Linked DNA regions of Homo sapiens: all the other regions are reported to be linked to region 1. The links are microRNA targets in miRTarBase. Many come from high-throughput screens and were not tested one by one. Region 1 holds a microRNA gene; each other region holds the end of a gene's coding sequence.
Evidence for each region. The annotated mature microRNA hsa-miR-619-5p reads GCUGGGAUUACAGGCAUGAGCC and lies in region 1 at 4,207-4,228, opposite strand. An mRNA with a match to its seed (bases 2 to 7 or 8) in the 3' UTR can be bound and repressed. Matches are read on the target gene's strand: a 7mer-m8 pairs with bases 2 to 8, a 7mer-A1 pairs with bases 2 to 7 and ends in A, and an 8mer does both.

Region 1 (7,824 bases):
GGCCTTGCAGTGCAACATGGCAGGGCCTCGTTCCAAATGTCACTCTTCAGAGCCTAAGAAAACAAGTAACTTTAGGGACACACCTGTCAACCGGAGCTCCCAAATTGTACCCCCCTAAACACATAATGCTGAGCATAGAAAAATTCCAGCTCTGCAGAGCGTTATACTTAGGGAAAGGGGTCACAGACAAGGAATGCTGGCAGGGCTCATTACAAATATCTTTGCTGCTGGAACATGTATTGTTTGGCTAGAAGGCGTAGGCTTCTCTCAGAGAGAAGGAATGTCCAAAAGTATTTCAGACAGTAAGAGACATTCTCTGAGCCAGCTACACAGCTCTCCTTCAAACCAACGGGTAGCGGCAAGCAGCTGAACTGACCAGCGAGCTCGCAAAAGCAAGCTTTTTTTTTTTTTTCTCCCTAAATAAGACAGCAAGTGATGTGTCTTGGCTTGGTTTAGCAAATTTTAAGATAGTTCCCTGATGACCCCAAGAGCCCTCAGGCCCCATGGAAGCTGGAGCTAATGCATCTTCCTCCAAGCATCATCTGCTCTACCAGGATCTAAGCCCCTTCACGAGGGCAGAAGGTATAAAGGCTGCACTGTGCGGGAAATGCTATGGCAGCAAAGACAGCCAAACACGCCAGAAATAACAGGCACATGAAGGAAATGTTTCTGAGACAGCTCAAAAATTCCGAGAAGAGATTATCCCGACTGTCCCAGGTTCTCAGCCCTGTCTATGGTATGCAGCCCCATACCACAGTCATTTGTCACCGAGTCCTAACTTTGTCAGAGGCCCCTCCTTTCAGGTCTCTCAGGCACCACCCAGTTCTGGCCCTCCTCACCCCCGTGAGCCAGGCGACATCCAAGCAGCCCCACGGTGCACCCGGCTCTGTGCTGCATTCTCTGAATGTCCCTGAAGGCCAGGGCTGTTGTATTCTCTACCCACTCTCTGTCTAGTATGGGAGCCACTGGCCAGATGTGTTGACTGAACACTTAAGATGCAGTAAGTGTGACCAAGAAACTGGGTTTGTCATTTTATTTCATTTTAGTTAATTTAAATTTAAGTTTAATTAGCTACATGAGGCTATCAGCTGTGGTATAGGACAGCAGAGCTCCGGAAGCTTTTGGCCTGGTGAGAAGAATCAGGACAAGCGCCTCCCTGGCCTCTCGCCCACTCTGCACAGCCGCTAACCATTGCTCTCATGACATTCTTTCCCAGCCCCAGAACTTTTAGCCATGTGACATCATCTATTGATTAGAGTCCAAACTTCTTGTGCTAACTCTCTATGGGTTGCCACAATTAGCCATTGTATGTCGTTAACCTAAATTTCATTCATCTGCTATGTCCTGACCTTAGGGGCTTAGAATATAGTTAGAAAACAGTATTTCAGAATAAAAAACCATTCTTGTATTACCTCTCGCACTATTCCCCCTGTTCTCCATGCTTCGCATTCTCTGTTCTATCCCCAGCTATAGCACTGTCCCCATAAAGCCTACTGTGGTTCTCGGCTCATGGTGTCCTTCCTCCCATCTGCCTCCCGACGTCATGCCTGTCTTCCAGTGTTTATGCCTTCTCCAGGAAGCTTTCTCTTGTGGCCCTCGCTGTGAGCTATAGCTCCTCCCTTTCAACATCTTCTAGCACCTCCTCTTACTGTGCAGGTGAGGACACTGAGGCTTAAGGGTTAAGTCACTTGCTCAAGGTCACATACAGTCGGTCCTCTGTATCCGCGGGTTCCTCATCAGTGGATTCAACCAACTACAGACAGAAAATACAGTATTTGAGGGATGCTGAACTCTTTGAATTAGTGGGTTCTGCGGGTGCTTAAGCATCCATGGATTTTGTTATCCTCGGCAAAGGCGGGGGTCCTGAAACCAATCCCCTTGGATACTGAAGGAAAGACCACCCTTAGTGATAGGAACCTAGGAACCCAAGTTCCCTCATTTCCAAATCGTGTTCCCTGACCCACTTATTTACTAACTAGTGGTGAAGCCATCTTCCTGCCAGTATATTTTAACTTCACAATGGGATGTGAGGGCCAGGATGCACATGCTTTTTAAATCTCCCTCTGTGCTTGACATACAGTAGATTGAAAGTAAGTGCTGGTAGATACACTGGCCAAGCTGTGCTCTTCTCTGAAGTCAGTATTCCAGGAGTAACTCACCCTGGTCATCTCTGTGCCCTGGGCACACTGGGCACTCCCCACACACAGGTTGAACCTGGCAAATAAGACTCACAGCATCATGCCACGTGCGAGTTAAAGCCACCTGGAGGTCAGGTCAGGTCTTCCTGACAACTGAGTGCTTCAAATAACACAACAGCAGCTAAGTTCCCCACATCACCTTGAGTGTCTGGAGAGCTAGGCCTATGACTTCTCTGTCTCAGGATCCCTCTCAGTGCCCAGAAAACAGTGGACATCAATAAATGTAACACCAATAACATCTTCGTTGAGCGCTATGCTAAGCACATCAGGTATGTTAACTCATTTATTCCCCAGTGTCCATCTCTCAGTGTTTTATACATACGGGAACTGAGGCTCAATTAGCCGAGCGTGGTGTCGTGCTCCTGTAATCCCAGCTATTGGGAGGCACAAGAATCACTCGAACCCAGGAGATGGAGGTTGCAGTGAGCCGAGATTGTGCCACAGCACTGCAACAGAGTAAGACTCCGTCTTAAAAAAACAAAAAAACAGAAAACAAAACAAACAAACACTGAGGCTCAGGGAGGTTAAGTCACCTGCCCAAGTTCATGAGACCAAGGAGCCGGGAAGCAGGAAGGGGAAGGCAGGAGTGTAACTCTGAAACCTCTGCTCTTAGGCACTGGCTTTCAGCTGAACTGATACCTCTGGAAAACAGTCTCAAAAAAGTCCACTTCTCCTCCCAACAATTCAGACCTAAAAACCATTTGGCGGGGAAGGGCAGGGCAAGCTTCTGAGTTGGGGAGGGGGTGTGGGATCCCAAGCTGAGGTGTCTGTTGGCAAGCAGGGTGCAAAGGGCATCTGTGCAGGGAGGGGGCTGCAAGGGAGACAGAGACTGCTCACAGGCAAGGAATGAAATATTAAACATTAATGTTAATATTAATATTTATAATTAATATATTTATGATATATAGCATATATACATATTATATTAATTAATTATAACTATATTAATATAATTAATTATAACTATATTAATATAATCAATTATAACTATATTAATATAATCGATTATAACTATATTAATATAATCGATTATAACTATATTAATATAATCGATTATAACTATATTAATATAATCGATTATATTAATATTAATATAATCAATATTAACAAATATATACTATATAATATAAATAATACCTAAGTTTATATAATATGCATAATGTTAATATTTATTAATATTTCAGGGACAATGGGAGTCATGAATATGGAGAGACAAAACTAGAATGAACCCCAAGGTGCTGCATCAGAATTGAAGGTACCAGTCTGAACTCATAGTTTTCAACCTATTGAAATAAATATAGATGCACGTGTGTGTGTATGCACGTACATACAAATGTTCCCTAATTCTGCCCATTGAGAGGCCTGTGGTTAGCAACACCCCAACAGCAATAAGCAGACCTAGCTTGGCTCCTAAATTTCATTTTCCACTAAAAGGAACCAGAGCCCCTTGGATAAAGGACTGATTCCACAGGTGGGTAGGGAGCATCTGTTGCCAGAAAGCAAGAAAGCACTTAAAGAATGATGTGGACATGTCAAAGGGACACAGAAGCCAGCCTGGATGAGATCCCACTGGCCCTAACTGTCCACAAGGACAATTTGAGCAAGGATGTCAACAATTTAAGAGCAGATTATAAACCACTGAATAAAACAGAAAAATACAAAGAATTGAAACGGACATTGATGGCAGACAGGATATTAACATAATTTTAAAGTATCTCTCCAAGGAATGCTTCTGAATGATGAAGGGGAAAAGAATAACTGTACAGTGGAAAAGCCTGGTAAAACCCACCTTAGTGACCAAAGTGAATGTCACCATAGTGGGACAAAAGGAAATCAAGTGCCACCTTATGGGATTCAACGAGGACGCAGCATCCCTTGGGTGATGTTCCAGCCAAATACACGTGCCCGGTGGAATCACACAAGAACATCAGACACACTCACACTGAGGGACACTCTGCAAACTGACAGTACTGGGCACAAACATGTCCAGGTCATGGTCGACCGCAGTGGCTCATGCCTGTAATCCCAGCATTTTGGGAGGCTGAGGTGGGCGGATCACTTGAGGTCAGGGGTTCGAGACCAGCCTGGCCAACATGGCAACACCCTATTCTCTACTAAAAATACAAAAATTAGCCGAGCGTGGTGGAGCATGCCCGTAATCCCAGCTACTTGGGGCGCTAAGGCACAAGAATCGCTTGAACCCGGGAGGTGGAGGTTGCAGCGAGCTGAGATATCACCGCTGCACTCCAGCTTGGGCGACAGAGTGAGTTTCCAACTCAAAAAATAAAAAAATAAAATAAAATCCAGGCCACAAGAGTCAAAGAAAGACTGAGGAAGGTTCCAGACTGCAGGAGAGCCAAGAGACAGGATAACTAGATGCAATGGGCAGTCCTGAATTGGATCTTTTGTTATGAAGGACAACGCTGGGACATATGGTGACTCTTGAATGGGGTTAGAGGACTAGACGGTGGGAATGCATCAGAGTCAGTGTCCCGCGTGGATGGCTGTGTTGCGGTTCTGTGGGAGAATGCCCTGGTCTGTATTCCAAGGGTAATGGAGTAGCAGGTTGACAAATTACTTTCAAATGGTTCAAAAAAGAAAGTTCTTTTCACTGTACTTGCAATTCTTATGTAAGCTGGAAATTATCTCAAAATTAACGAGAATTTTTTATCGACGTAGTATTTTACATATTTATGGAAAACATGTAAGTATTTGTTACATGCATAAACTGTGTAATGACCAAGTCAGAGTATCTGGGGTATCCATGACCTTGAGTATTAATCATTTGTATGTGTTGGGAGCATTACAAGTTTTCGAGTTACCAATTTTTTTTTTTTTCCTTTGAGACAGGGTCTTACTCTGTCGCCCAGGCTGGAGTGCAGTGGGACGACCACGGCTCACGCAGCACAGCCTCCACCTCCCAGGCTCAAGCGATCCTTCCACCTCAACCACCCAAGTAGCTGGGACTACAGGTGTGTGCTGCCACCCCCAGCTAATTTTTTAATTTTTTTGTAGAGACAGGGTCTCACTATGCTGCCAGGGCTGGTACTGAACTCCTAGGCTCAAGAGATCCTCCCACCTCGGTCTCCCAAAGTGCTGGGATCATAGGCATGAGCCACCATACCCAGCCAAATTTTTTAAAGTTATTTTTTAAATCTCCACTTAATTCGATTTTGGTAAAACACGACCTGTAATTTTTCTTTATCGGTAGGTAATAAAAGCTTCAGATGATTTTACTGATCACTGGTATGGGCATATTTCATGACTTTGCCCTTTCATCTCTTGCATAGTTTTACCCTCACCAAGCAAGACCTTCCCTGCCTCAGCACTGTTTGCCCTCTTCGTGTTTTCCAGAACAGAAGTGGCCCTGTTTCGTGCCCAGAGCAGAAGAGAACGATGAAGAGCTCTGCTCTCCCAGGTCTTCCTGGTCTGTGTGTGTCCAGGTTTTGAGGGCCTCTCACATACACGGCTCTGGACCACGTAAGATCTAATTTTAGCATTTTCCTGCTCGGAGACCACATGTTTGGAACAGCAGGGGCTGACCTGCCCGTGCAGGCCTCCTATTGTGAAGGGCACGCGAAGCCAGGATACCGCAGCCCTGCAGGATGTGACTCAGCATCCTGTCTCAGTGCTGGGGCGGCCAGCAGCTCTGGCACCAAGTGCTGCTGCTGACCTCACCTCTTAAGACCACAAATACCCAGGGTAATTGGTGGGATAGGCATGCAGCATCAGCTCTCCCTGTTAAGACAACTTGCTTGTCCATCCATTATGCTGGGCTTCCTTGTGAACACCACAGGTATCTATCAGGAAGAGTTCTTCCGAGGAACTGATCTGCTGGTATTTTCAGGACACCAAGAATCAAGAGATTGGTCTTGTTTCTCTCTTTGCTTTGACTACCAGGAAACTCAAAGTCAGATCTGTGGCCAAATTCTGGTAACCATACCAATGCTATGTCATGTATTACATGTACAAACCTTCCCCTTACTTCATCTTATTTTCTTCTGCTTTCTTCGTGTCCCGATTTTCTCACTAATGTTACATTCTATTGTTCTCTATGAATGTTGTAAGGTGTTTCAAATCCTTTTTGGAGGGCACTACTGTAGATACAACACACATTACCCCTGAGGGATAAGGACTCTTTTTGACTCCACACAGAATCCCTGGCATTTGGCAAAGAACCCATATTTAGGCACTAAATACACATGGGCTGAATGGAAAAAGCCAATAGCTAAGTAAAAACCACCTCCATTACCATATTGTTTCACAAGAGGTTCTTTTCCCTTCCATCTCATGAGGTGGGGCCTGGTCAGGAGTCCCCAGGGCCTGGGAATTAGGTTCCTTAGGGAGCCTTCTTGCTGTAGGGGCAGCCAACAGGTCAGTGGCCTTGACTCCAGACCTAAAGAGCCACTCCTAGACTCCCAGCTGCAACAGACACAGCGTGGCACGGGTGGGCCTGGCCACTGGGGAAGTGACAAGTGATTTCCAGATGCTGCAGCCAGCCTGGCTCTTTCCAGACCACACTGAAGGCCCCTTCCTGTGGGAATTCTGATGGGGCCCAGATTTGGGGAAACACGCCTCGAGGACTCTTGGCAAGTGCGTGCCAGGCCTGGACCAGGAATGACTTCTGTGGGCACAGGGAGAGACCAGGCATTTCCTAACACAGGACCTTGAACAGCCTTCTCTGAAACAAAGTCTTTCTAAAAATAGCTTCAAAAGTAACCATTCAAGAAAAGAAAGAAAAAAAAAACTGTAAAAGTAAAGGCACTCAAGAATGATATTTCCCAGATAAAAGCCTGGCACAGGTTTCAGAGGAACTTGCAGGAAAACAGGTCAAGGCTGGGTTTTTCCTCTTAGGTGTCACTTGGTTAACATTGGTCTTTGGAGGGGAACAAGTGCGGCAGGAAGGGCTGGCACTGAAAATGATGGCCACTGGGTATAGGCCAGGGCCAGACACTGTACACAGAACAAGACTCTCTGGAGGCCTCAGGAGGGCCCTGAGAGGAGGAAGGCAGGTGGTGGGCCCAGGGTCAGACATGCAAGTGAGCTAAGTGGCAAGGCCGATGCCCCATCCAGAAGCCCCGCTCTGACCACACGCAGGCTCTCCCGGCATGTCCTCATTTATGCGGCAGTCTCTTGTATCTCACTGCAATTCTGCCCCCACACTGCAGGCTGGCCAGCGTGGCTTCCTCATAAGCACATCACCCTGCATCCCGACACTGACTACACCCACAAAGCAGGAGCCCCCGCACCCTCCAGCCCAATCGCTCAGTTCGCTTTGAAAATGGCTCCTCTCGGGGGCTGGGCGCAGTGGCTCATGCCTGTAATCCCAGCACTTTGGGAGGCCGAGGTGGTTGGATTGCTTGTGGTCAGGAATTCAAGACCAGCCTGGCCAACATGGTGAAACCCCATCTCTACTAAAAATACAAAAAATTCGCCAGGCATGGTGGTACAAGCCTATAGTCCTAGCTACCCAAGAGGCTGAGGCAGGAGAATCACTTGAACCCAGGAGGCAGAGGTTGCAGTTAGCCGAGATCGTGCCACTGCACTCTAGCCTGGGTGACGGAGCAAGACTGTCTCAAAAAAAAGAAAAAAAAAAAGAAAATGGCTCCTCTGGATTTTGATTAAT
Region 2 (7,604 bases), not on the chromosome of region 1:
GCTACTTAGGAGGCTGAGGCAGGGGAATTGCTTGAACCAGCGAGGCAGAGGTTGCGGGGAGCCAAGATTGCGCCACTGCACTCCAGCCTGGGCAACAGAGCAAGACTCCGTCTCAAAAAAAAAAAAAAAATTTCCTCACAGAGTAGAGCTAACTCATAAGCAGTGTGCCCAGAGTCGGCCCACTTTGTCCCATTAGTACAAACAAGCTCTTTCCCCTTTCAGTCTCCTGCCACTTGTCCCAATCTTTCCTGTGTATTTTTTTTTTTTTTAAGATGAAGTCTTGCTCTGTCGCCCAGGCTGGAGGGCAGTGGCATAATCTCGGCTCACTGCAACCTCTGCCTCCCAGGTTCAAGTGAGTCTCCTGCCTCAGGCTCCCGAGTAGCTGGGACTACAGGCGTGTGCCACCACATATGGCTAATATTTGTATTTTTAGTAGAGATGGGGTTTTACCATGTTGGCCAGGCTGGTCTAGAACCCCTGACCTTGTGATCCGCCCACCTCGGCCTCCCAAAGTGCTGGGATTACAGGCGTGAGCCACTGCACCTGACCCTTCCCTGTGTATTAAAAGAAAAAAAAAAAGCTGGAAAAAAAAGGTTCTTTAACTATTTCTGCAACTTTGACATACATATAATTCATTTTAGCTGGACACTTGCACTTGTTTAAAAGTTCTGACCCTGGTTTTCAAACTTAAACGTATTACGAATCACCCAGAAGGCTTGTTAATGCCTGGTGGCTCCAACACCAGAGCTTCAGATTCCATGGGTCTGTAAAGAGTGAGGGAGGGAAGGTCAAGCTTTTTTTCTTTCTTGAAGGTTTTTTGTTTTGGTTTGGTTTTTTGGAGATGAGGTCTCACTCTGTCACCTAGGTTGGTGTGCAGTGGTGCAATCATAGCTCACTACTGCCTCGAACTCCTGGGGTCAAAGAGATCAAGCCATCCTCCCATGTAGCTAGGACTATAGGTGTGCGTTACCATGCTTGGCTAATTTTTAAATTTTTTAGACATGGGGTATTGCCATGTTGCCCAGGATGCCCTTTAATTTGATCATCCTGCCTTGGTCTCCCGAAGTGCTAGCATTACAGATCTGAGCCACCACACCTAGCCAGGAAGGTAGTGTCTGTCTCTCAAGCCTCCCAGCACTTCTGTTTCTAACAGGTAGTAGTTCATGGGTCAGACATTCATAGTGTCCTTTCCTTTTTGTCTTCCACTATTTCTTTTTCTTTTTTTTTTTGAGCAAGGGCTCTCCCACTTACCTGCAGGCTGAACAGATTCTTTTCATAAGCATCTGCCTGGGGAATATTTTCTTACATAATTTGCCATAGGAAGTGCTCACTTCTCTGTCAGGCTAGCTGGGACAGGATTCCCATCTGCATTTCACACACTTGCACCCTATTTCATGGAGGATGGTATCCTACCCCATGTTAGAAATATAAAACAGCGTGGATTTTTTTTTTTTCAGACGGAGTCTCACTCTGTTGCCGAGGCTGGTGTGCAGTGCTGTGATCTCAGCTCACTGCAAACTCCGCCTCCTGGTTCAAGTGATTCTCCTGCCTCAGCCACCTGAGTAGCTGGGACTATAAGTGTAAGCCAACACGCCTGGCTAGTTTTTGTATTTTTAGTAGAGATGGGATTTCACCATATTGGCCAGGCTGGTCTCGAACTCCTGACCTTGTGATCCGCCCACCTTGGCCTCCCAAAGTGCTGGGATTATATGTGTGAGCCACCACGCTTGGCCAAGTGTGGATTTTAAAATATCTTACAGGCTGGGTGCAGGGGCTCAAGCCTGTAATCCCAGCACTTTGAGAGAACATGGCCGGCAGATTGCTTGAGCTCAGCAGTTTGAGACCAACCTAGGCAATATAGTGAGACTTTGTCTCTACTAAAAATTAAAAAAATCAGCCCGCCGGCACCATGGCTCATGCTTGTAATCACAACACTTTGGGAGGCCGAGGCGGGTGGATCACCTGAGGCCAGGAGTTTGAGACCAGCCTGGCCAACATGGTGAAACTCCGTCTCTACTAAAAATACAAAAATTAGCCGGGTGTGGTGGTGGGCACCTGTAATCCCAGCTATTCGGGAAGCTGAGGCAGAAGAATCGCTTGAACCTGGGAGGCAGAGGTTGCAGTGAGCCGAGATCGCACCACTGCACTCTAGCCTGGGTGCCAGAGCAAGACTCCATCTCAAAAAAAAAAAAATTAAATTAAAAAATAAATAAATAAAAAATAAAAAATATCTTATGGCACTCCCTTCATACTCATTACACCTGTGAAGATCAACCTGTTTCTCGGTGATAAGAAGGAATGTAGGCTGGGTGCGGTGGCTCATAGCTGTAACCTCAGCACTTTGGGAAGCTGAGGCATGAGGATTGCTTAAGCACAGGAGTTCCATACCAGCCTGGGCAACATAGCGCAACCTTGTCTCTACTGAAAATAAAAATTAAAAAAATTAACCAGGCATGGTGTCACTGACCTGTAGTCCCAACTACTCCGGAGGCTGAGACGTGAGGATCACTTGAGCCCAGGAGGTTGAGGCTTCAGTGAGCCGTGATTGTGCAACTGCACTCCAGCCTGGGTGACAGAGCGAGCCCTGTCTCAAAAAAAGCAACAACAAAAAAAGAGGGCATGTCAAAAGGAAAAGAGGATTTGATTTGCCAAAGTCAGATTTTCACAGGCAGTACGCACATCAGGTCTCTCCCCAGAACTCACCCAGGCTCACAAGGATACATGAGGAAAACAGACACGAAGATGTGCATTGACAGAACCATAGAGACTCTACAAATATTCATTATCCTTCATTAAAAATTTTAAGTTACAAACATTTTGATTGATAGTCAGTCATGGTGGTGCACCTAGTCCTTACTCTGAAACCAAATATCCTGCCATCTGGGGACTTTCACCAGCCCTGTCGGTTATCTTACCGCAACACCAAAGAGGAGGCTCAGCCTTCCCCAGTTCCCTGAGTTCACATTGATTCAATTCTACAGCTCACTAGACCTGCCCAAGACAGGACCAATCAATGTCCCGGGAGGGCAGAGAGGGTGGTGGGGCCACACTTAGCCATATGGAAAGACAGTATTCTCAGATGAGGGCAGGACTTTTTTGTGGGAGAGGACGCCTAGCTTTCAGTCCTAAAGGAAGTGATTTCCCTGGTAAAGGGAAGGTGATTTTGCCAAGGCTGGAGTCTAAAGGAAGATGGAACTGTCTTTCAGGCGTCTCCAGCAGACCCTCTACAGACCCGTGTTCCTGAAGGCAGAGTCCTGAAGGCAGAATACCCCTGTGGCAGTGGCACAGCTCAGAGTGTCCCATAGACACTGATTTTGGCCACGGAGATGCTCTCTGTGTAGTGGTTCCGGCCTTTCTCATACAGGACGTAGAGCTGGGGGGCCTGCTCCTCTCCATCCATGCTGCCCTCCAGGGTTGCCAGGGATGAATAGCCACTGGGGCCTGGCCATAGCTGGACTGTCTCTTTCCGCCATGAGGTACCATTGCTGAAGCTCCATCGCAGGGTCAGGTTCACTCCTGGGGAGAGCAGGAGAGTCAGGGAGAGAGGGTCTCTGCCCAGGCCTTGTCTAGACACAGGGCTCTCCCTGCTGACCCCACCCATGAGGCACTCACGGAACTCTGGATGTGCTGGGTTGGAGAAGAAGACAATGCCGGAGCTGGTGACTACAGCTCCTGCAGCTACCACAGGGTCCACGAGCTCAGGGTCGAAGGTCACATCACGGGGCCTTAGTGTATCACAGGCATCATAGCTGCGGAGGACAATTCGGCAGTGGCAGTGGTAGTTGTTCTGGTTTCGGGCATTGATGACGACTGAGCCATCTGGGAGCTCATAGGGCTGAGGGGAGAGGACAGGACCTCAGGGAGGGAACAGGGAAAATGCCCTGTCCCCGAGGGGAGCAAGGGTGTGTGGCACTGAGTGGAGCAGTCAGACCCTGGGTCTGTGCGTGAAATGATGTTCTGGAGGGCAGGGAGGGTCAAATGGGTAGGGAACATCTCATGGACTCCTGACCTGGCATTCATCAGGATTGAAATCATTTTCCTGCTTGGGCTGACCGTAGGGGATGCCGCTGACCCCACTTCCGTAGCGCCAGGAGGCACCATGATCATCGCTGAGGAGACAGAAGACTCCGTCCCGCTCCAGCGTCCCATGGCCACACACGATGAGGCGGCCCTTCCGTGGCTCCCGCTGTTTCTGTGGGAAAGGGAACTGGGTGTCACAGAAGGAGACTCTAGGGGCTCAGAGGCAGGGACAGAGAACCCACCACTTCCCAAATGCAATCACATGTATGGTCCCCTTGAGTTCAGCCCTTGCTCACTGAGGGTTCCAGTCAGATCCCATAAATACACACCCTGTTTGAATTAAGAAGCTCTCCCAGGGTGTACAGCTGGACATGTGCACCAGGGGCCCAGCCACAGGGTGCATGAGAGCTTAAACCCAACCTGTGCTCACTCGCCAAGCTGTGCACCCTGGCACAGGCTTGTGTCTGTCCAAAGAGGCAGTGCCTTTTTCTACTTTGCATGAGGGTATTGCATGGACTAACGCAGTCCTGTTGACAATGCCAAATGGGAAGCCAATGGCAGAGTTCCCTCTTCTCCTGATAATGTGTTCCTACCAGGATGCCCTGTCTTTCAAGGAATCCCACCCAAGCCAGAAAATCTGACTTCAGAGAATCTTCCCCTTGGAAAGGAGTCCATTTGGGGGTATCCCTCAGACTCTCCACAAGGCAGCCCCCTCCACCTATCTCCTAGGACAGAGACCTGAATACCAGAGCCCGGTCCAGGGGCAAACACTTCAGTGCCAATATCCAGGGAGAGATTCCGGGGTGTGCTCCAGGAAACACCATCATCCTTGCTCCATACCAACATGGTAGAGGCCACCTGGCAGCCGGCCTTGTGAGCACAAAGGGAGTAGAAAAGAAATACTACTCCTGTCTCAACATCGCTCACTACTGCCCCAAGGTTCAGCCCATCGGGGACATCCCCATCATTGACAATGAACGCTGTAGGAGACCATGTGCTGCCTGAAAAAAATTGGAGGAAGAAACCCAGAGTGAGCACTCTGCAGGTACCCTTTCTACCACTTCCCGTTAATTTCCCACCTTCTGCTAGGGACCTCAGGCCTTCCGATGGTCCCAGGGTGCAATCCAACACTTGCACTATCTATACCTCTTGTCCTGTTTTATTTTTCTCCATTGCATTTATCACCTTGCAACAGACAAAAAAGTTTACTTGTTTATTATGCTTGTCTGTCTCCTTCCAGTACAATTTAAATCCTGAGGGCAGAGATTTTTGATCTGTTTTGTTCGTGGCTATATTCATGAAACCTAAAATAGTGCCTGGTATAGGTATATAGTACCCAATAAATGTTTGCTAAGTGAATGTCCAACTCCTTGGTGATCCCAATTTCCAGATCACTGTCCTAGACACTTGCCCTTCTCGGGTTCCCTCTACCCCTCAGGGACTCAGGCAACCAACCCTCTAAGTTCCCCTATCCTCAGGGCCCTTGGGCTCATTGGGCTGCCCACCCATCCAACCTAGCACCGGCTCTTTCACCCAGACATCTTTATACCCTGGTCCATGGACCTCCGCAGGGCGATGAACTTGGCCCCCTCATCGGATGAGGACATTTTCCTCGCCTCAGCAAAGGCGAGAAGAGTGCCCCGCGGAGTGGCTGTGATGAGCGGGATGCGGAAGGTGTCCACTGAGCCGATCTGTCTCCCGCTCACCCACAGCAGTTGCTCCATGGTCACCAGCGGCTGCACCTGTCATGGGAGGAGGAAGGGTCAACAAAGACAAACTTGTCTTGGGGGTTTTAGGAACCCACGTTCCGATGGGAGAGGGAGGATCTAATGGGGATCCCGAGTAGGGGATGGGGTCCCAGAACAAGAAAGAGGAACACGAAGGGGAGTTTGGAGCGAAGCTGGAGGCTCGGAGCAGGGGAGGGTCTACGAAAGGAGAAGGCGCCTTCAGGGAGGGAAGGGGACCCCAAAAGAGGAAGGGGCTCGAATGAGGAGAAGGACGGGGACCCGGAGAGGGAGAGGGGCTGGGAGCGGTAGGAGGAAACGGGGTCTGGGAGAAAGAAAAGGGTCCTGTCGCGGAAAGTCGGCTCAGCCGCCCGCGTTCCGGGGGACACTAGGTGTCGATCACCTGCGCGGGTCGGGGATGGGGCTATGCAAAGGGTGACTCACCAGACCGAAGTCGTTCTCAGCCTTGGACCAGGAGGCTGCCAGAGACAGCAGCAGGAAGATCGCGGCAAACACCCAAACCCTACAGCCTCCCCAGAAGCCCAGAATCCGCGGCCCCCAGCGTCTGTCCGGGAGCGCCGTGCTGGGTCGCTCCCCAGTCATCTCTCCCCGCAGCTGCCGCGACCCTGGCAGCTAGACTCCACAGAGTCGGGAGTCAGCTGACCCGGACCCTTTAAAGCGCAGATGTCACCCTTAAGCCCGCCCCGGTCTGGAGGCCCCGCCGCGCTTCCCGGACTCTAATTGGTCTTCAAGTAGCTCATCTCCTCCCACGTGATCACGCAGCATCTCGAAGCTTGCCCTTCCGATTGGCCCTCTTGGAGGCCCTCTTGGAGGCCCGGAGCGCGTGACCCGAACGGGAAGCGGACTGGCTGGGGTGAAGAAGGGACTGGCACCATCCTTATTGGGCTTTTTGATTGGCCGCGGCACCAGGACACGTCACAGGGGCGGGGCCGATTTTAAAGAGCCGGGCGCGGAAAAAAAAAGGCCGCCTGTCGTCGTGGAGAGAATGAGTCACAGATTTACTGAGTTAACAAAATATCTTTAATAAAATCTTTTTGTTTGTTTGTTTTGTTTTGGAGACAGAGTCTGTCACCCAGGTTGGAGTGCAGTGGCGCGATCTCGGCTCACTGCAACCTCTGCCTCCCGGGTTCAAGCGATTCTCCTGCCTCAGCCTCCCGAGTAGCTGGGATGACAGGTGCATGCCACCACTCTCGGCTAATTTTTGTATTTTTAATAGAGACGGAGGTTTCACCATGTTGGCCAGGCTGGTCTCGAACTCCTGACTCAGGTGATCCGCCCGCCTCAGCCTCTCAAAGTGTTGGATTACAGGCGTGAGCCACGGCGCCTGGCCTAAAACCTTTTTTTACCACAAAATGGAGACCTGTAAGGCGAAGTGAGGTTGGATGGCTGGACGGTGGGGGTGGGGTGCAGTCCTGGATCAGGGCCGGAGCTGTCACTTCTTCCTCTTCTTGTTGTCCGGGGGCGCCTCGTTCTTCTTGCCCAGAATCTTTAGAAGGCTCTTGGACATGTAGTAGGGCCGGTCCAGGGAGCCGTTGTTCCGCTCCAGGTCTTCCACTGAGCCGCAACAGAGACCGGTTAGAGCGGACCCTGGGGCCAGGAAATCGGGGACTGGGAGGCAAGCTGCCTGCGGGATTTGGAATCCAAGCTGCACCACCACCCTTACCCCCGGGCAGGTTATGTAATCTCAGTTTCCTCCTGTGAAGTGGGGTCGGGAATATTATGTTGCATAGAGCGATGATAAGAATTAGCGGAAAAAATGCATGTCAGTCGCTTAGGAGGAGACTGGCAAACCCTGAATGGATGCATGCTGTAGAGTAAGAAAATCCCCTGCCGCTACAG
Region 3 (7,824 bases), not on the chromosome of region 1:
GGAAGATTAATTCAAGTTAGAGATGGAGCCCCACCAAACCAGCAGAGTGGCTGCCAACCTATTCTGCACAATTCCCTGGGGGAGACATAAAGAAATTCATGTGAGATTGCATCCTGGGCGCGGTGCACACGCCTGACGACTTCACTTTAAGCTTCTCAGGTGAGTCTAATGCAGCCTAACATAGGACGGGTGGGCTCATGTTCTTTCTAAGGCGTGTCTCATTCTCTAACTGGCCCGGCTCCACCTCAAGCACCCAAAGCCAACGTCTACAAGCGGCTGACCTCTCAAGGGTCTGAGTTTTATTTTTAGAGGGGGCTATTTGTAGGAGAACAGAACGTGAATAAGGCCAGAGAAAGCACACGCTTGTCAACAAAGCAGATATTTCAACCAGTTTATTGTCTGACTCTTCTTTTTAGAGGGCGCTATTTGCAGGAGAACAGAACGCGAATAAGGCCAGAGAAAGCACACGCTTGTCAACAAAGCAGATATTTCAACCGGTTTATTGTATCTTTACAATAATAAAAATAAATTAGTCACACACAAAAATAGTCATTTTTGCTGAAGAGAAAACAGACCATATTTACTCACATAATTCGCCTTCTACCTTTCACCTGCTTATGTAATAATTTAACACTGTAGAGGGGACATGGAGGTGACGGAGTATTTAGTGGGTTCCTTGCTCCTGGCTGTGCAGTTCACAGGCCCCACAGGCCTTGGCCCCAGCATCCCCAGCAGGGACAGTGGAAGTGTCAGAGCAGTAAATGCCACCACTTCCCTCTCAGCCTCTCCCTGTCCCCGCCAGCCACCTGCCTCACCCACGGCTCTAACCAAGCCCACCGAGCAACTGACGCTGCCAGTCTAACAACGGGGACAAAGCAAAGAGAAAGGGATAACAGACACCCTCCCATTTCCTTCTCCAAATGTCTGTGGATGAGGGGAAGGCAGATTAGATGAGGAAATATAATATTTAAGATGAAAAAGTAGCAATCAGGTTCAGGTACAATGCTACCTGAATGAGTCGAAAAGCAGAGTAATTTATATTTGATCTTAAACCTCAGGGAACTGGACTGATTAGCATACTAAACAATTGTAACTATGGACTGAGAAAAAGACATCAATCATCGTACAGCGACATTCCAGGAGGCTGGGTTAGTATGATCACATGCTTTCACACAAATGTGGATCGCATATGTAAATAAATACCTATCAGGTCCCTTTAAAATTAACACATTCTAAATAATAGAACTATTTTGGTGTAGTGACTCATTCTGCAGATAGAGTTCAGAATACATATTTCCTATAAACATCTTGTATTTACAGAGAACAAAATAATAAGTTATAACAAAGTATATCCTTCTGTCAACTGAGTCGTGGGGAAGGGGTCAAGGCAGGGGGTATTAGTTTGTATAGCAGGTGGCTTCCCTCTCGCAAGAGAAAGGACTGAGAAAGTTGGCTGGAAGTTTTCACCCTCTTGCGGTCACACCCTCAGCACGATGGACACCCCCCCCCTCCATCATTATCTGCTGAAATGAACAGGAATGGGGGGTGGTTCAGGGTGCAGGGAGTTACTTTGCCCCTGCAAAGGTGCAGAAACTCCAGTCGAGCTGAGAAAGAGTGATGGTATCTATAGGGTCCTAGGCAAGCCATGGCTCTGCTTACACCACGGTGAGAGACCCTGGGCAGGCAGCCCCCCATCCTGCCGCTCAGCTACGCCTCGATGCAGACGGCGGCTCTGACCAACTTGCCAGTGTTTCTCTGAGACATGAGGCCGCATTCAGCTCAGGGTTTCAGTCCCACAGTGGGCTCCCCATGGCTGACAGGGTGGCAAAAGTCAGAAACGGAAAGTGCATAGCTGTGTACTTGCCTTCCCCCACCAAACAAATCACCTAAAGCTCTTCTACTCACAGACTCCCCTAAGCCCTGAGTGGAGACGGCCCTGAGCATCACGTTGCCCAGCCAGATGCTTGAATCCCCTCTCCAGCATCCCTGGCAAACGGCCTCTGCTTCCACCTCCAGTGATGGGTGGGTCACCACCTACCACAGTCCCTCTATCTCTGGAAGGCTCCAACTTGTGAAAAGCTGGGTCTCTGCAGGAGCTAAACTGTGCCTGCCTGTAGCTTCTTGGTCCTGGTCCTAGGAGAGCTCTCCTTGTGCCCTAGTGCCTTCTCCAGCCTGAGGGTTCTCATGAAGTCCTTCCTGCTGTTTCTGAGAGTCTGCACACTTCATCAGGACGGGGCATTGATAAACTGATGTTATTATAGATGATCGGTTTTCTTCTTAAAGTATGGTTCCGGCAAATGCAAACACAATGTGATGTGATCCTCACCACTGTTTTCTCCTCACGTAGCCTGCATGTCTGTGGGTTTTGTTTTTGCATGGTTCCATCCCACTTTGACTCACACTGAGCTTAGTCAACTGAAATTCTTGCCTCTCTCCCACCTTGTATTTAGTTTTTCATTTTAGCCCAAATATAGTACTTTATGTGGATTCCTGGTGAATTTTTAACATCCAAGTTTTATTCTAGTCTCCCTGATCTTTTTGGATCCAGCACGTGTCACCCAAGCCATTGGCTCTTCAACTTCACGTCACCCATACATTTTGTGAGGAAGCCATCGATATTTTCCCATGTAAACCATATTAAAATGTTTTATATGGCAAGGATCAAATACTAGTCTCCACCCACAAGGCTGATATAGATTATCCAGCCTGTTTTAAGGGAAGTCATGTTTCTTTTTACCACTTATATTTATGTCTTCCTCCTCATTAGAATTGATATTCCAACTATAAAGTGGCTATCCGAATGAAAAGAAAACCCACAACATTTGTTTAGACAGGTCCTGGTAATATCTGGATTTCTCTGCCACATAACTTGATGAAAATACACCAAGCTCGTGTCTTCTCTTTTCTGTCCCTTTGTAAGGCCATTCTTTTTAAAGCAAAAAGAGTGTTGAATGCTAAATACTTTGAGAATAAGTAGATGAGTACATAAGAAAATAAAGAAAAAACCCTCCAAGAACTCTGGGCCAGAGAGGTAAGGTAAAGGGACAGGTAGGCACAGTGCGGAGAATTCTTGTCATGTTCTAGTTCCCTGGGGGCGGGGACAGGCTGCCTTGCCCTCCCTGGGGTCCCCAACAGCTTGCAGGCAGCGGGCACTGAGCATACCTTTACGGAACTGAACTGACTCCCTCTAGTGGCTGGCTTTAAATGGCTTTTTTTTTTCTTTTGGTGTTTTTGTTTGTTTTTTTAGTTGTATTTCTTAGGCCATCCCTTTTCTACAGAGAGAACCGCAAGTCATCGTGAGGGTGGAAAGAATCGATAGTACTAAATGTCCTTTGCCTAGGCTGCAAGAGGCACAATTTCCTTTTTCAATGGATGAAAGTAAAACGGCAAACTATTTTTGTTTGGACTTTGTTGACTTTTGTGAGGAAACCATATGACAGCTTTAATATCTAATTTTAAAATTCAGAGCAGGAAATGAGGCAATCCCGTACACAGGCCAAGAAAAAAACCGTATCAAAATGTAAATATCAATTCCACATTACGGCCAGTTAAAGAACAATGGGAAGACCAAGAAGGAGATGGCAGTGACAGAAGAAAGGAGAGGGGGAAATAATGGGCACTAAGAAAGCAGAAAGAGACATATTTGGAGGGAGATGGCTACCGAAATCTGGGCTTTTCTTAGATCCTCTCCAAGGAAAGTTATCACTGGAAATACCCAAGGCCCTGATTGTATGCACTGTGCTAGGGAGAAAGACATTCAGATGCTGAAATAAAAAACTAGGGAATTAGTAAAAATTGGATCTCTAAGACAAATAAATTGATCAAACTATAATAATAATCAAACTTCTAATAATGTATAACCTCTCCAGAGATGAACTCCAAGAACAGCTCAATGGTTTGTTGAAAAAAAAAAAGAGACCCCTGGTTTATGCACTTTCTCCCCAAGGGAGACATGGGGTTGATCCATCGGGTCTTCTTCAATTGCACAGTTGGCAGGCTGGCCATTCCCATGGAGGGTCATTCTCCTTTTAAAGAATGGTTAGGTAACCTTCAGCAGCCATAGGGCACTTTAGACATAAAGAGACAAAGCCATCACTGACCCAGCCCAGCCACGAGAATTCCTGAGTTGGAAGAACCAGGGTGTTCACCTCCCACTCAACAGAGAATTCCCTTTAAGGACAGAGCGCTCTCTCATGTGTGGTGGCCCTTGCCTCTGTTGGGCGGCTTTGATGGCTAGAAGGTGTTCCTTTAACTTGAGCTAAAACAGCCTTTCTCTCTTCCACTCATTGATCTTAGCCTGCCCTCCAGCATGAAAAGAAAACCTCTTCAAATGACTGGCTTGCTTGGAAAGATCTGAGAGCAGCCACATACAGGAACAACTCTCCTCGTGACAAGCAGCAAAACAAGTGGTGAGTGGAAAAGAGCAGGCCCTGAACAGCACCAGTCAATATGCTTGGCCTCTCTGGTCTCTTTTCACTTTGTCGGTTTGGGAGCCTGGGCCTCTGCCAGGATGCTTATCTGTAGGAGTTCCAAGAGAATCAGGAGATGGGGATGCTTTTGGGAAATGATGCCTGGGGCTCCCTAGAAGAGAAGCTGGAAAGCTACCCACAGAAAGGCCAAATAGAATTTCTGAAAGCCCCAGGTTAGTGGAAGCCTAAAGAGCATGTCAGGCCAGGTTGCCATACTGCTTCCAAAAGCTGCAAACCATCATCACAGTGGCAGATTTGTCAGCTAAAAGAGCAAATGGGGGAAACACTTTGCTAAGAATCCAGGCTTGCTCTAAAAGGGAAATATGCTCAGGACCATAAGACAAATTTTCTGTAAGTTTAACATTTGTTTAGCTTGCCATTTTTTCTTAATGGGTAAAACATACATATATTCCTCTTAACTGTTTTCAGAGGGTCCACCTTTCAATATGCACTGCATCCTTCCAGGCCTGCGGCCTCTGGAACTGGATAGTTGGGGAAAGTGAATTGGAAGAGATGGGGAAGGGTCCACAGCTCCTTGTCGCAGGCCAACTGCATTAATGCAGAGCTTGGTGCTCAAGTCTGGGGGTGGGCCATATGGACTGTGAGTCATGGGGGAGGGGAGGAATTTGTGGCCACAGAGGGAAATTCATAAACAAAACCAGAAAGACCAGAAAGAGACTTTTTCTAATACAGCAGTGTTTCGGCTGGGACAGGTTGGCCGGACTCTCCAGGAACGTGGTGAAGAGCGTGGGGGAGGCGGCTGAGGCAGGGCAGAGCCCAGGCTGCAGAGCTGTGTGCTTCACAAGTTGGCTCTGTGGTCGGGAAGGCTCCACGGCCATAAGGACCCTGGCCTTTGATTTCCTGGGAGGAACAGCACTTGGAACGGAGTAAGAATTTCAGGCAATCACCTGGTTTCCCCAATGGCTTTCTTGTCTCACGGACAGTTTAACAAAGCTGGCAGAGTCCTGTAACTAGGATCTGTAACTTTGGGGGTAAGGGCAAGTAGGAACAGACATCCAAAACAACTGAGTGCTGGGATAAAGGCTTGACCGGAAAGATTTCAGGGGCCTGGGCTTTGTTTGCATTCTGGGAAACTTCTCAGTCTCTTGGTCAGAAATGAAGCAGCACCTTTCACATCTAAGTACAGGCCCCAGGCTGGATACTGGTAGATGACTGGGGCGGGGACTCAGCTCTTCCACTGGATGGGTGAATATACCTGGCAGGTCAATTACTTAAGTTGAGCCTCAGTTTCCCTGTCAGTAAAATGGGGATAATGAGTCACCCCCTGCCTCCCATTCTGGGATGTTGTGAGCTGCTAAGGAGCTAGTATCTGTGAGTACACCTGCTAAATAAAGCACAATATTCATGTGAGCTATCTGTGTCATAGGGCAGGAAAACAGTCTAATGTCTTTGAGAATGAAAACAGGCACATCTGGGCTGAGGTCACAGAGGGATGCACGCGTGTCAGCAAGGCTTAGTGGGGCGCTGGGTTGGGGGCGCTGCCTCCTTGGACTCTCCAGGGTGCTAAGTTTAGAAAGACCAGTAGCACCAGGGACGGGGCAGTGCTCAGTCAGTGGCCCATCTGCTGACTTGAAGGTGCCAGATGGGAGCAGGGCTGAGAGCTCCATGTACTTCCCACTGCTTGACTTTCAAAGGGCACCATTAGCAGATGCCAGGTCCAAGGAGGGGATCATCAGTACATGGTGATGCTTAAAGGACTGACTGTGGCTTTCAAACATCTTGTGTAAAAAGCCCCTGGGTACCACGGGGTGCATTCACCGGAGGCAGGGGTGGTGACTAAGTTGGTTGGCAGCGCCTGGGCCAGGGGGCCCGTGGTGGAGCAGCAGCCAGCCAGGCGCACTGCTGAAGCCCCCGGGAAGGCAGTGATGCTGCCCTACTGATGGGGGTGCAGGAGTGTTATCTGCTCCCCAGGAAGCCCGTCTGCCTGTTGGCCACACGGGTGCAGGAGGCACAGCAGGCGGTCTTGTAGTAGTTGTAGACACAGAGTCTTGCCTGGACCACCACGTTGCAGTTGTAGTACTTGTCCTTGCAGTTTTCATCTGTAGCGAAAGAGAATGAACAGAAGACTCCCTGAGCACAAGAGGCAGCCTGGACCAGTGGGAAGAGAAAGGGCAGTGGCTGTGGCTTTAACTCCTGCGCTGCTGTTTATTACCATTGTGGGGTATGAATGTGTGCCAAGGGCTCACAGGTTTTTCTCTTTCTTTTAAACACGATAAGGGAAATAGGTATAGAGAATAAGTTACTCATCTGTGTCCTCACTTCTCTCTGATCACTTCCTCCTTCATCCTCATCACTCCAGAGGTAATCAGAAGTTCCAAATTTGGCGTTTCTTATCCCCAAACATTTCTTTACACTTAAACTCTATGTGAGGGAATCCCTCACCACTCTGTGACATTTAAACATAAAAGATACATACTGTATAAGCTCCTTGGCAACTTGCTCGACATTGAATTTGTGCGATTCATTCATATTTGATGAATGCTATATTTTCATTATTGAATTTTCTTGTGTATATAATCCACAATTTAATCATTTTCTATTGATGGACATTTAAGTTGGACATTAATCCAATTTTTTTTTTCTAGTGCAAACAATGCTTTTAAGTAGTTTTGTTACCATCCTCTGCCTGGGCCTTGCTGGGTCATAAGGTATATCCAACTTTGCTAGATACAGTCAGTTTGCTCTCCAAAGTCGGTATAACTGTTTATGTTCCTGTCAGTGAAACAGAAGAATTCTCTTTTTGCCATATGTTTTAGTTTTTGCTGAGCTAGTGAATGTGAAATGATTCCCACGTGAGGCTGAACATATCATGTATATTTGCCATTCAAGCTTCCTTTTCTGTGAATTGCTTTTCTGATCTTTTGCTCATTTTCTGATTTAGTTAACTTTAAAAAATGATTCACGAAAATTCTTTATATCTAATGGATCTGATCCTTTGTGAGTTAGGTTATATGTGCTGCAAATATCTTCTTCAGCCTGTGGCTTTTCTGATCACTTTGCTTCTGGTGTTGATTGATAAACAGAGATTTTTAATTTTAATGTAATTGATATTATAATATGTTTTCCTTTGTGGTTTGGAATTGTTGGTTTCATTTAAAAAACCCTTCTGTACTCTGAAATAAAATATAAATTTCCCTGTTCTCTTCTAAAAGTTTTAAAATGTTCTTTTCACATTCTTTTGACTAATCCACCAGGAATTAGGGTTTGTGGAGTGTATGGTATGTGTAGGATGAGAGGAGGGAGTTCAGTTTTCTTGTTTTTTTCCTTGTATATGGATAAACAATTGTCTCATGACCATTTATTGAATTGTTCATCTTTTCCCCACAGCTTCATA
Region 4 (7,824 bases), not on the chromosome of region 1:
CATATATTGAGTAAGTGAAATCACTACTACATAGGCAGCAAGGGCAGGTGTAGTTGGGGGAAGGAGTATAGGTGCAGATGGTAGGAGGTGAAGGTGAATTGACTCCCTAAATTCTGTGTTTGTCTTCTATTACCCAGAGCCTGATTTTTTTTAGGTATCTTCCTTTTTTAATTTAGTCCTCACCCGGTGAGCTACCTTTGCAACCTTAGCTTAATCTTATCCTGGGAGTGAAACCAAAGTTGATAATTGGGTTTTCAGCTCAAGCCTCAGTGTCTACAAGAGCAGGATTTTAATTCAAATAATTGCTTGGAGGAAAAATTTTCTGTGCCAAATAAGAGTGTATGTTGCAGTACGAAAAGGTAAAAGCATCCTAAAAGCAGAATCCAAACAGCCAACTTTTGGAAAGGTTCATCACCAAACCACACCTAAAAATTCTGAAATAGCCAACCATCAGCAAGGAGTGAACATTGAAAGAATTAGCATCACTTCTTTGGAACAGCAAGGCAAGGAAATTTATTGCACTTTCAGAACTGTCTTTCACTATTTTTCAGTTGCCTTCTTAGTAGAAATGTTGGGTAGGCAAGATGAGATATATGCTTAAGCACTTGCAACCTCTTTTTCTCTTTATTTGATAAACATAAAGTTATTTTCTGTGTATCTTTCACTGAAGACCTAGGCCAATACATTTGCTTTCTGCCCAAACTTAAAGGGAAGAATACCCTAAGGCTAGGATTCCAGACAAGACAGAATGTTGGGCCTACCATAGGGTCATGATTCCAAAGAGACATTCTCAGAGCCACTTTTATTTTTCCAGTTTTCCTGGAAGAAAGCAACCTGCTGTCTGGAATCTGCCTGTTTAACTCAGTGGCATGAGAGCTTGCAGCCTTCTGTGGCAAGGATAACTCACACTGACTGGCTGGCCTCTGTCTTTAGGAATCTAGATTTCACACTTAAGAAAGCACTCTGAATGGCACATAAAAGACACTGTGCTGTGCAGAAACTGTAGGGGATGGCTACTGTCAACTTTTTAATCTCAAAATGCCAAGTATATTATTATGCTGTGAGTATGAGAAAAGTGATTACCTGTACATTCAGCAAGCTGATTCAGAGTGTGCTCTCCCAAAAGGCTGGAGGTCAGAAACAAAAACATTTGTACCATAAATGATGTTGCTTGTTAATCCCAAAGCCTCTTATTTTCTAGATACCTCATTCCTTTTTTAGAAACACACCATCACCTAAAGTACTGTAATAGCTAACTCAATTATGTCCGGTGGAATAACAGCAAAACAGGGTAATTTTGTGGGTAGCAAGATGCAAAACATTCCATTAAAGTCAGATTATGTTGAGCTGTCATCATAGCTATTTAAGTCAAATACCAGCCAGTATTATAGATCAGATAATGCTGATAAATAATCTTAGTTCATAGTATAGCAGGCTGACTATTCTTAGAATGTGAATGTCTGGTTACAAATGCTTCTGTGTTACACATCAGTCTTTAGAGGTTTGCAGGTATCTGTTGCCTGCAGAGATTGAACAAGAAGGAAAACTGCCAGTGAATGAATACCCACCCATATAAGGCACGGGGACATTTGATCATCTTCACGTTTCAACCTTGCAGATTATCCAGAAGGCTCATCATCTCTTGCTGTGGAAACGGAAACATAGCAGTTTTCACATTTCCTGCATCTCTCAGACAGGTCAGTATTCTGAGGGAGACACATACAGTGGCACCTGGACTGCTAAGAAGGCGGCTTGGGAGAAGAACTAGAAAAGAAATAAGTTCTTATCCTGGGTGAAAAAGATTTTAAATTCTTCACTCTTGTAATGCATGCATAAGCAGAAGTTCTATACATAATTTCCCTTGGCAGTGTGCTGAAAAAAAAGATGCCCTTATTCCCTGCAAACTCACACTTATGTCACTTGTGCTGAAAAAAACTCCGGGGATCCAGACACCCAAACATTCCGTTAAGGTTATTTACTCTCATACTGTGAATTATAAGCCTCCTCCTGTTTCATTCCAGGTCTCTGAAATGGTACAGATTACAAATAGCTTTCTTTTGCCTGACTCCATTATGTCAGTTAATAACCTAGTCTTCCCCACTAAGGGCAAAAAAGCATCCTTCCTACACTGTAACCCTCCTAAAATGCTATGAGTTTGTTAAGTAGTGGCAGACAACTTTACACATGGGATTCTCTTTGGCCTGGTGAAAAGCTCGACGACCTTCTTTTTGCAACACTCACAGGTATAAACCCAGTGTAATTAAATATTAAAAGAATGTTAGTAATAGAAATACCATAGAGCTTATAGCTCTGATCGGATGAAACTTCTAATCCTATTCTCATGAAAAAAGCTAGCAATTATTCAGAAGCTTACAATCTGTTCGTGGGTTCCCAGGTCTTCAGTTCTTTCCCTTACAGAAATTCTGCTGTGTACAAGTGTACATATTGTATAAAACTTTGTATATGCCAGCCACTTTGGTGTGTACTTGATATATATGATCTTATTTAATCCTCACATCAACTGTAAGATGAATGTTACTATTCCCATTTTACTTATGAGAAAACTGATATGCAGAGAGGTTAAATCACTTATCCAAGTCTGCATATGTAGTAAGTGGCCAACCTAGGGTTGTAACTCAGGTCTATCTGACCTCAAAGCATGCTATTTCCACCATGGCACTACATTTCAAAATCTGAGTTATTTGTGATGTGTCTTTATTTATTATCAAAGATTAAAAAAGGAGAGAACCAAGTCTGTTTCCTTATCCAAAGCCCTGATGAAATGTTTGATGTTTAGGTAAGACAACTTATATGATAGTAATATCTAGATTTGGGTTATCTGTGGTGCTAATCTGTCTATTTTATTTTAGTATTTTCCTAGGGGAAACACTACTACTTTGGCATGGTAACAGATGTTAAAGGGAAGAAAAATTATCTGGTAAATAAATTTATAAAACCCTATATAAGCAAAATTAGAAAGTTGGCTTTAGTGTAGGAATTCTCAGGGGTTTTACTACACTATTGAGTTTTGTGGCTCACCAAAAGGAGGTTGTAGTGGTCCCTTAAATTTTATTTAACTGTTGGATCCTTTCTTTTTTGTGCCTATCATGGAACCTAGTATTTCGTGCAATACTTATCAGGACCATTAATATGCTAAGGAACTTTGAAATGCATTTTTTATATACTTCCCTAGATAAGCAAAATTGCCTTCAAGCAATGCCTTATGCCTTTTACAGGGCACTCTGTCCAAATATATTAATAAAGTGATTCATTTTGTGGAAATCACAAACTCATATATACATATATATATATTTTTTTTTTGAGATGGAGTCTCACTCTGTTGCCCAGGTTGGAGTGCAGTGGAGTGATCTCGGCTCACTGCAACCTCCACCTCCCAGGTTCAAGTGATTCTTCTGCCTCAGAACCCAAGTAGCTGGGATTACAGGTGTGTGCCACCACGCCCGGCTGCTTTTTGTATTTTTGGTAGAGATGGGGTTTCTCCCTGTTGGCCAGGCTGGTGTCTAACTCCTGACCTCAAGTGATCTGCCCACCTCGGCCTCCCAAAGTGTTGGGATTAGCCACCGTGCCGGGCCTCATATTCTGATAATAATAGAAAAGTACTTGGGAACACAGGAGGGAAGAGTGGGAGAAACCTTTTAAAACTTATTAAGATATGAAGAATTGTTTAAACTGTATGTAGATAATTACTACAGTGATATTTGTAAAAAGCTCCAAACTGAAAACAACCTGAATGTCTATCAGTAGAAGAATGCATTAATACATTATATATGTCCAAGTAATTAGATATTTAATATATATTTCCCTTCATTTTCTTTTGAAGTTTTTTAAATAAAAAAGGATGAAAGAAAACATGAATCCCTTGTGTTTAAAATGTAGAATCAATGCTAATTTTTTCATTTTGCCTCTAAATTTTGTATATAAAAAATTATTGCCATAATTTTTACCCCAAAAATGTACTTATTCTAGATTATATTTTCTTCAAAATGAAAAGACAAACTTGAAAAATATTTGCAAACTATACAACACACAAAATTTAATATGCTTAATTTACAAAGCTCTTGCAAATCAGTAAACAAAAGAAAAACACAACAGTTAGAAAATGGGCAAAGCAACAAAAGAAAGCAATGAGGAAAGAACTCTCTATTCAATTAATGGTGCTGGGATAACTGGCTAGCCATATGCAGAAGACTGAAACTGGACCCTTACTTTTCTCCATATGCAAACATTAACTCAAGATGGATTAAAGACTTAAATGTAAGACTTCAAACTATAAAAATCCTAGAAGCAACCCTAGGAAATACCCTTCTCAACATTGGCCTTGGCAAAGAATTTTTGGCCAAGTCCCCAAAAGCAATTGCAACAGAAACAAAAATTGACAAGTGGGATCTAATTAAACTAAAGAGCTTCTGCACAGCAAAAGAAATTATCAGTAGCAAAAACAATCTACAGAATGGAAGAAAATATTTGCAAACAATGCATCTGACAAAAGTTTAATATCCAGAATCTATAGGGAACTTAACAAGCAAAAAAAAAAAAACAACCCCATTAAAAATGGGCAAAGGACATGATGAACAGACGTTTCTCAAATGAAGACATACAAGCAGCCAACAAACATATGAAAAAAAATGCTCATCATCACTAATCATCAGAGAAATGCAAATCCAAACCGCAATGAGGTACTATCTCACACCAGTCAGAATGGCTATTATTAAAAAGTCAAAAAATAACAGATGCTAGTGAAGCTCCAGAGAAAAGGGTATGCTTATACACTGTTGATGGGAATGTAAATTAGTCCATCCACCGTGGAAAGCAGTTTCAAGATTTCTCAAAAACACTTAGAACTGCCATGCCACCCAGCAACCCCATTACTGGGTATATATACCCAAGGAAAATAAATCCTTCTAACAAAAAGACTTATGTACATATATGTTCATCACAGCACTATTCACAGCAGCAAAGACATGCAATCAACCTAGGTGTCCATCAACAGAGGACTAGACAAAGAAAATGTGGTACATGTATATGATGGATACTACACAGCCATAAAAAATAATGAAATCTTATCCTTTTCTGCAACATGGATGCAGCTGGAGGCCATAATCCTAAGAAAATTAACACAGAAACAGGAAACCAAATAATGCATGTTCTCATTCATAAATGGGAGCTAAACATTGAGTACCCATGGAAACAAAGATGGCAACAATAGACACTGTGGACTACTAGTTGGGGAAGGACAGAAGGGGGTGGGTTGAAAAACTACCTATTGGGTACTATGCTCACTACCTAGGTGATGGGATCTATACCCCAAACCTCAGCATCACACAATATACCACCTAACGAACCTGCACATGTACCCCGAATCTAAAATAAAAGATGAAATTATTTTCAAATTTTGTAAAAAGTAAATGGGCAAAGGATGCAAACAATCAACAAAATAGAAATTAAAATGAAAAATAAACATTAAACTTGTTCAACTTCACTGTAAAGAAATGCAAATTAAAATAACCTAAAATACTAATTTTTATCTATTAAGTCAGCCAATTTTTACAAATTACAGTACCTATTGTAGGCAAGGACATGCTGAAACAGATGTTCTTATACAATGCTGATGTGAGTTTAAATTCATAGATCATTTTTTGAGTGCAACTTGGAAACACGTATAAAAACATTAAAATCTCATACTTTTTTAATTCAAAGAAACTAGCACTTTAATTTTATTCTGCATTTTTGTGCCTTTATACTACAAAAAAACTATATACTTTTATAATATACAATCTGGTGAGTTTTGAAATACGTTTACATCTGTGAAACCATCGCTGCAATCAAAATAATGAATATATCCATCTCTCCCAAAGGTTTTCTTCTGCACTTTTATAAATAACCCCTGCGCCATCACCAGGCAAACACTGATTTATTTCGTTACTATCAGTTTTCATTTTCTAGAATTTTAAACAAGTAGATCTGTACAAATGTATTTTTTTGTTTTGTCTGGCTTCTTCCACTCAACATAATTGAGATTCACCTTTGTTGCTGTGTGTAAGGATAATTGATTTCTTTTTATTGATGAGTAGTATTCCACTGGATATATACATATATTATATATATATACACACACACACACACACACACACACACACTAAAATTTACTTTTCCATCTATTAATGGATATCAGAAGTGTTTCTAGTTTTTTGCTCATACACATAAAGCTGCTATAAACATTTGTGACCAAGACTTTGTGTGAACCTGTGCTTGGGTAAGTACCAAGGAGTAGGATGGCTAAGTCATATGGTAGGCATAGAATTTTTTTTTTAATGAACCATTTTTCTATCCTGTCCCTGTGTGTGGTAGATGCTCACTCTCTCATTCTTTCTAGATAGCTTTATCAGATTAAGGAGGTTCCCTTTTTTTTAAATTATACTTTAACTTCTGGGACACATGTGCAGAACGTGCAGGTTTGATACATAGGTATACATGTGCCATGGTGGTTTGCTGCACCCATCAACCCGTGGTATATCTACATTAGGTATTTCTCCTAATGCTATCCCAAACCTAGCCCTCCAGCCCCCGACAGGCCCCGGTGTGTGATGTTCCCCTCCCTGTGTCCATGTGTTCTCATTGTTCAACTCCCACTTATGAGTGAGAACATGTGGTGTTTGGTTTTCTGTTCCTGTGTTAGTTTGCTGAGAATGATGGTTTCCAGCTTCATCTATGTCCACTTATCTGTGGAAGCTAAAAATTAAAACAATTGAACTCATGGAGTTAGAGAGTAGAATGATGATTACCAGAGGCTGGGAAGGGTAGTGGAGGGGTGAGTGCTGGAGGGGAATTGGGGATTGTTAATGGCTACAAAAAAAAAAAAAAAAAAAAAACAGAAAGAATGAATAAGACCTAGTATTTGCTAGGGCAACAGGGTAACTATAGTCAAAAATAATTTAATTGTACATTTTAAAATAACTATAAAAGTATAACTGGATTGTTGGTAACACAAAGGATAAATGCTTGAGGTGATGGATACCTCATTTACCAAAATGTGATGATTATGCATTGCATGCATGTATCAAAATATCTCATGTAATACATAAATATATATATACCTACTATGTACCCATAAAAATTAAAAATAAAAATAAATTTAATAAGATATGTTATCCAATTTTCCATCATCATAATGTTGTGAATAATATCACTAAACATAAATCTTTCTCCTCATTTATAATCATTTCCATAGGATAGAATCCTGGAAGCAAAATTACTGGTATGAATTTTTTAAAGGGTCAATGGATAAGGCCAAATCATTTTCCGGAAAGCTTAAACAAATAGCTACTTGAGGGCCTACTATATGCCAGATATTGTTTCAGGAAGATTATATTATACCAGTTTTACAGATGAGTAAACTAGGATCCATTGACATTATTTTTCTAGAGTTATGGAGATAAGAGGCAAAGCTAGAATTCAGCTTCATAATTGCCCAATTTCAAAGCTCTTGTTATTTCCATGTGGATTTCAAAAATAGTATTTTTGAAGTATCAAATTATATATTTACTAAAGAAAATGTGGAAAATGCAAGTAGAAGGTAGAGAAATGAAAACAAATTACCCATGAATCCACCACTTTCAATAGTTCAGTGTATTTCCTCAGTCTCTTATTCCAAATGTAATTTTGGGGGTCAAAAATATAGCATTGTATATATAATTTTATATCCTGCCTTTTTCACTTAACATTTTTCAGTGCTGATCTATACTCTTCATAAATGTAATTTTAATGGTTGCATATTATTGTCAAGTGGGTGTTACCACATGAATA

Region 2: miRTarBase lists SLC44A4 as a target of hsa-miR-619-5p. Seed matches in the 3' UTR shown: 7mer-m8 at 6,928-6,934.
Region 3: the mRNA of THSD4 is a reported target of hsa-miR-619-5p. Seed matches in the 3' UTR shown: 8mer at 5,766-5,773, 7mer-A1 at 5,555-5,561 and 7mer-m8 at 5,502-5,508.
Region 4: the mRNA of ZDHHC15 is a reported target of hsa-miR-619-5p. The part of its 3' UTR that is shown has no 7-base or 8-base seed match.

The regions. Positions count from the first base shown.
Region 1 is chr12:108,832,756-108,840,579 of GRCh38, forward strand. MIR619 (microRNA 619) reads right to left here and starts at 4,251; the gene lies at 4,153-4,251. The region is part of intron 2 of SSH1 (slingshot protein phosphatase 1); the gene reads right to left. RefSeq lists enhancers at 5,107-6,306, 5,611-5,740, 6,300-6,901.
Region 2 is chr6:31,856,430-31,864,033 of GRCh38, forward strand. It overlaps SLC44A4 (solute carrier family 44 member 4), which reads right to left. Exons shown (of 21, transcript NM_025257.3): 21 at 6,763-7,319. The coding sequence ends at 7,198. It overlaps NEU1 (neuraminidase 1), which reads right to left and starts at 6,392. Exons shown (of 6, transcript NM_000434.4): 1 at 6,189-6,392; 2 at 5,570-5,762; 3 at 4,759-5,021; 4 at 4,010-4,192; 5 at 3,613-3,835; 6 at 1,230-3,516. The coding sequence starts at 6,347. The coding sequence ends at 3,290. RefSeq lists enhancers at 6,573-7,198, 7,199-7,604.
Region 3 is chr15:71,775,937-71,783,760 of GRCh38, reverse strand. THSD4 (thrombospondin type 1 domain containing 4) reads right to left here. Exons shown (of 18, transcript NM_024817.3): 18 at 378-6,529. The coding sequence ends at 6,387. Among named protein-coding and RNA genes, the nearest start is that of NR2E3, 31 kb to the left of the region's middle. RefSeq lists an enhancer at 1,712-1,801.
Region 4 is chrX:75,372,993-75,380,816 of GRCh38, reverse strand. ZDHHC15 (zDHHC palmitoyltransferase 15) reads left to right here. Exons shown (of 12, transcript NM_144969.3): 11 at 1,619-1,697. The coding sequence ends at 1,665. Among named protein-coding and RNA genes, the nearest start is that of UPRT, 100 kb to the right of the region's middle.